Linked DNA regions of Homo sapiens: region 2 is linked to region 1. Evidence: fine-mapped expression QTL. A gene starts in region 1. The other region holds a variant in brackets. All regions are shown on one strand. Distances are from middle to middle.

Region 1 (2,901 bases):
CTTGATCCTCCTTAAAATGTAAATCCTTCCTCTTCTTCTCCCCCACCTTCTCCACTTTCATAAGCTGGTCCCAGTTGCTGAGAGAAGGACGGATGGAAAGGGGACCAGGAGGGACCCTAGGGAGCCCCAAATGTTTCATCTCACAGAAACTAGGCGCTGGAGTCCTTTCATTCATTTATTCATTCAGCAAATGCCGACAGAGGCCTGAGCTGCACACTGGGTGAATTGCACGCCCAGTCCTTGCCCTCCTGCTGTTTCCGTCTGGACAGAGGGAGGTTCCATATCGACCCCTATCTCCTGGAAGGGGCAGATTATGAGTCTGCCCTCCAGGAAGAGTCTTTGATGTTAAGATGAGATACTGAGGCAGGGAGAAGCCAAGCACCAGGACCTTCTCCAGTTCAACTCAACCCCGAAAACACCACTGGGCCGTGCTGGGACCGGGTCCGGGCTCCTTAGGGCCCCCACACCCTACCCCTCGGTTTGTGAAAGGACCTGCGGGTGGGCGCAGGGCGGAGGTCTTCCTTTTCCAGGCTTTCCTTTTCCAGGGCAGGGGCGAGCCCAGTCCCCCTCTCCTCACACCTGGGGAGGGAGCAGATCGCGGAAGTGCGTCAGCCAAGCCGTGCCCATCGACGCAGGGATGGGGACATCCCTGGACCCCAGCCCAGCGTTCGAGGGGTTCTGGAACTGGGCTCGCGCCGTGGGGTAAATCCTTGGCCCTCTGAAGCGGCGCTGCCAGGGGAAGTCCTTCCCATTTGACAGGTGGGAAAATCGAGGCGCCGAGAGGGGAAGGGGCCCTCCTTATGTTATGATCAGAACGGACAGAGGGGACGGGAAGGAGGTGAGAGGGTGGCCCTGCCCGTCCCGGGGCAATTCCGGGCTGCTTTGACCTCCGCGCCTGTAAGGTACAGGTCCCCGCACCTGTAAGACAGGGACGCTCTAGTCGCGGGCCCTAGAACTGATCCCCTTCGAGCGCCCAGTTCCGATGAATGTTTCGGGGCAGTCTTTGTGGAGGGGGGTTCCCTGTGGGGCCTCCCGGCTCCGCGGGGCCTGCTGCCTCCTCTCGCCCCTCGCGGCAGCCGCGCTCCTCCCCCGGCTCTGCCTCCCTTCCGCCCTCCCTCCTCTCTCCCTCCCCCGCCCGCCCGAGCCCGCGCCGAGCCCGAGCGGGAGCCGGAGCCGGAGCCGGAGCCAGAGCGCGGGCTGTACTGAGAGCGCGGCGGGAAGGTAGCGCAGTCGGGCGGCCCGCGGCCCCGGCGCGGCCTCCGCTAGGGCCAAGACCCGCACACCTGCCGGGCCGGGGAGAAGCCGGGGGCCGCGCGCAGGCGAGGACCCGCCGCCCGGCCCGGGGAAGATCTCAGGACGCGGACCGGGCAGCTCGGGTCCGAGGTGAGCCCGGGCGGAGGACGCGCCCACCGGAGGTGCGGCCTCGGAGCTCCAGACCCAGCCCACTCGGGGCTGGGGTCCCCAGAGGAGGCCGACGGCCGAGGCGGCGTGCGCCGGGAGCCAGCGCGATCCCTGCGGGAGCGGAGGAGCCGAGCCGGAGGGAGCCGCGGCGCCCGGCCATGCACCGGGCGCAGTAGCGGGAGGCGCGGGCCCGATGGCGCGGGCCGGGGCGCGGGGACTGCTCGGCGGCCGCCGTCCTCCCGGCCTCCGGCTCGCGCTCGCGCTTCGGCTCGCGTTGCTGCTGGCGCGGCCGCCGTCGGGCCGCGCGGGAGCCCCCGAGGCGCAGGGTCCCGCGGCGCCCGGCACGACAGCCCCGGAGGGGGGCGACCGCTGCCGCGGCTACTACGACGTGATGGGCCAGTGGGACCCGCCCTTCAACTGCAGCTCCGGAGCCTACAGCTTCTGCTGCGGCACGTGCGGCTACCGCTTCTGCTGCCACGACGGGCCGCGGCGCCTCGACCAGAGCCGCTGTTCCAACTACGACACGCCGGCCTGGGTCCAGACAGGCCGGCCGCCCGCCCGCGCCCGCGACACCGCAGCGCCCCGGGACCCCGGCCGCGAGCGCAGCCATACGGCCGTCTACGCTGTGTGCGGCGTCGCAGCGCTGCTGGTGCTGGCCGGCATCGGGGCGCGCCTGGGACTGGAGAGGGCGCACAGCCCGCGCGCGCGGCGCACAGTGACCAGGTGAGCACGCGCCGCCCAGGGACCCCCGCCTGCTCCTCGGACTGCTCTCCCTGCCCGCTGATCCTTCCCGCCGCTCTCGAAGCGCTGGTTCTCCCAGCAGGCCCCTTCTCTGGGTTTTCCTGTCTCCTTCTCCCCCCGCCGCCCCCCCAACACTTCATCAGGGAGACACCTGACACCGCCCTGACTCCCTTTGACCTTCTGCCCGTGCTGGGCGCCGCACCGCCTTTCCCTGCTCGAGTCTCCTCTGGAGGGCAGGGGGGTGGGGGCGGGCTGGGAGGGGGACAGGTAGCCTTGCACAGAGGGCACCGGGTCACTGTCCAGGGTAAGGGGCGCCGCTGGCCAGGGAGGTGACCGGGCGTCTTGGGCACGGGAAAGGAAGGGGCGCTTGGTTCTCTGGGTGCCCATCTCCTGCTTCTCCCCACTCCTCCCTCCCCTCTTCCACCTCCTGCCTCTCCCCTGCCCCCACAGCTGTGACTCAAGGCTGCCCTTCCCTCCTTGGGTTTCAAAGGCCTCCCCCCACTCACCCCATGCCACAGCTCCCAGGTGAAGGTCAGGGCTCCCTCTGCGTAGAAAGGGGACTCTGGAACACAGTCGTGTGTTGCTGAGGCCAGGACAGGTGCTTGTTGCATTCTGAGCTTGGTGTGAAGTGGGCACTACAGGGTCCAGGTCCCCTTCCTCGGTTGGAACGAGGACTCTAGGACTCTATGTGTCCTGACCCTGGAACTCCCACCCACATGCCACACGTGGCACTCACATGCCCCCAGCAACCCCCATGCC
Region 2 (2,901 bases), 25 kb after region 1:
GACAGAGTCTTGCTCTGTCACCCAGGCTGGAGTGCAGTGGTGTGATCTTGGCTCACTGCAACCTCCGCCTCCTGGGTTCTAGCAATTCTCCTGCCTCAGCCTCCCAAGTAGCTGGGATTATAGGCACCCGCCACCGCACCCAGCTAATTTTTATATTTTTAGTAGAGACAGGGTTTCACCATCTTGGCCACGCTGGTGGCTTGGCTTGTAATCCCAAGCCAAAAAAAAAAAAATTTTTTTTTAAGTTTTCCTAAATTTTATAGACACCAGAATCTTCCCCAACTGGGGCCTAGGAGCCTCCCCCTGTAACTCATCTGCTAATTGCCTGATGTGAAAGAGGCTGTGGCAAGAACCCCACAACTGTTTAGATCCTGAGAGCCACTCAGTATCCCTGGGCCAGTCCCAACCCCAGGTTGTGTCCCCTAACATCGGTCTAACCCCATGGCTCTCAAATCGTGTGCCAAGGCAGTCTGAGGTGCCACAGCAAGTGATCAAGGGAGCCACTGGCTATTTTAAACTTTCGAGGAAAACAGTGATGCTCAACATCAGCTGGGCACTGTAAGTGACTAGATGGGGAGAGCATGCAGCCTCAGCATTGAGACCACACTAGCTTCCTTTGGAGATGTGATATCTGTCATAGTACTGTGTGAAAATCAATGTGGAAAAGAGAGAGAGTGATGGTTGCTAGTCTGATTCCAAAGCTTGAGGTGTGCAGTGCTTGACAGGTTCATGTATTGGTAAGAAACAGTGACACCATGCTTGTGAAGAGCCATTCCACTCCAGCCTGGGCAACAGAGTGAGGCTGTATCTCAAAAAATAAATAAATAAATAAAAGAATATTTTGGATTCTTAATAACCATGATTTCTAAGAAATTATTAAGAATCCAAAATATTCTCTCTCTTTCTTTCTTTTGAGACAGAGTCTTGCTCTGTCACCCAGAGTGCAGTGGCACAATCTCGGCTCACGGCAACCTCTGACTCCTGGGTTCAAGTGATTCTGTCTCAGCCTTCCGAGTAGCTGGGATTACAGGTGCGTGCTACGATCCCTGGCTAATTTTTGTATTTTTAGTAGACACGGAGTTTCATCATGTTGGCCAGGCTGGTCTCAAACTCCTGACCTTAGGTGATCCACCCGCCTCAGCCTCCTTAAGTGCTGGGATTACAGGTATGAGCCACCGTGCCCAACCTCTTTTTTTTTTTTTT[TA/A]ATAGAGACATGGTCTCACTATGTTGTCCAGGCTGGAGTGGAGTGGCTCTATTCACAGGTGTGACCATAGCTAACTGCAGCCTCAAACTCGTGGTTTCAGGAGATTCTCCTACCTCAGTCTCCTGAGGAGCTGGGACCACAGGTGTGTGCTACCACTCCTAGCAAAAAATATTATTTCTTCTTTCAACTTGACATATGATTTTTTCAAATGACCACTAAGCTGTTAAGACAATTTAAATACCTATTAGGATGTTCAAACTTAACTACTTAACAGAGGCCAGGCGCGGTGGTGCATGCCTATAATCCCAGCACTTTGAGAGGCTGAGGTGGGCAGATCGCTTAAGCCCAGGAGTTCGAGACCAGCCTGAGCAACATAGCAAAACCCTGACTTTACAAAAAATACAAAAATAAGCTCGGTGTGGTGGTGTATACCTGCAGTCCCAGCTACTCGGGAGGGTGAGGTGGGATGATCACTTGAGCCCAGAGAGGTTGAGGCTAGAGTGTGCCGTGATTGCACCACTGCACTCCAGCCTGGGCAACAGAGCAAGACACTGTTTCAAAAAACGAAAACCAGAACCGTTAGGTATTTCTTTTGGCTAAGGGATGCCATGAAAAATTTACTGAGACATAGTGAGTAGAGAATGTTTGGGAATCTTGAGTCATGAGTTGAGCAAGTTTGGGAACCTCTAGTCTAAACCATTTTCACAGAGGCCAGCCCTCCACTTGCCCCCAACAACTGGCTCATTTGTAGCTAAATATATCTCACCAAATTCAAAGCTTCTTCCTTTATAAGAAAGTACTGTCTGAGTCTCTTTATCCTCTCTCAAGAGAAGTAAACAGAGAAGAGCAGTTACTTTAAAGATGACAGTTCTCCTTTTTCCATCTTACTGAATATGCAAATTTGGTAATACTATTAAGTTTCAAATATTTATATCCTTTGACACAGCATCACCATCTCTACAGATTTGGTCTGAGGAAACTCTTATGGAGGTGCATGAAGACAATGGACAAAAATGTTCCCTAAAGCACTGTTTATAACGGCAAATACTGGAAACAACCCAAATGTCCATCAGCAGCATCAAGTACCTCTGTAGAATGAAGAGGCTACAAAGAAACACCCAAGATTCATCGTTAGTCACTAAATCTGGAAGACCAACACTTCCAGACATCAAGACGTAAGAGAAAACTCAGCCGTTAGGGTTGGGTGGTGATGGTGCAGTGGAACAGACTAGATCTGGAGGCAGACCCACGGTACACGGATCCTTGATTTATGAAAAAAAGGTGCCACTTGGTGCAGCAGGGGAAGGATAGTTTTTAAAATAACAGGTTCTGCGTCAGGTAGATATCCTTATGGAGAAAAACAGATCTTGCACTCCTACCTCCAACTCTTATAAAAATTAATTCCAGGTGGATTAGGTACATATGTGTAAAGAGTAAAAAATAAAGCGTCTAGCAGACAACATAGGAGAATATCTTCATGACTTTGAGGTAGGACAAAGATTTATTGAACAGGACTTAAAATGTCTAACTGTAAAGGAAAAGACTAATAATCTGGATTTCACTGAAATTAAGAGCTTGTGCTCTCACTAGACACCATTAAGACAGAACAGGCAAGCCCCAGAGTGGGAGAAGGTATCTGAAAAGCATATATCCAATAAAGGGGTAATCTCCAGAATAAAGAATTCCTCTAATCAATG

The links. PIP is the estimated chance that this variant, and not a neighbour inherited with it, causes the effect.
Region 2: its variant is fine-mapped to the expression of SHISA8 in whole blood (INTERVAL, PIP above 0.99).

The regions. Positions count from the first base shown.
Region 1 is chr22:41,913,361-41,916,261 of GRCh38, reverse strand. SHISA8 (shisa family member 8) reads left to right here and starts at 1,188. Exons shown (of 4, transcript NM_001207020.3): 1 at 1,188-2,124. The coding sequence starts at 1,595. RefSeq lists silencers at 1,070-1,229, 1,250-1,329, 1,400-1,469, 1,510-1,589, 1,730-1,809 and 1 more and an enhancer at 962-1,887.
Region 2 is chr22:41,888,005-41,890,905 of GRCh38, reverse strand. The region is part of intron 11 of SREBF2 (sterol regulatory element binding transcription factor 2); the gene reads right to left. Among named protein-coding and RNA genes, the nearest start is that of MIR33A, 11 kb to the left of the region's middle. The variant TA/A (reference allele first, on the strand shown) is at 1,204.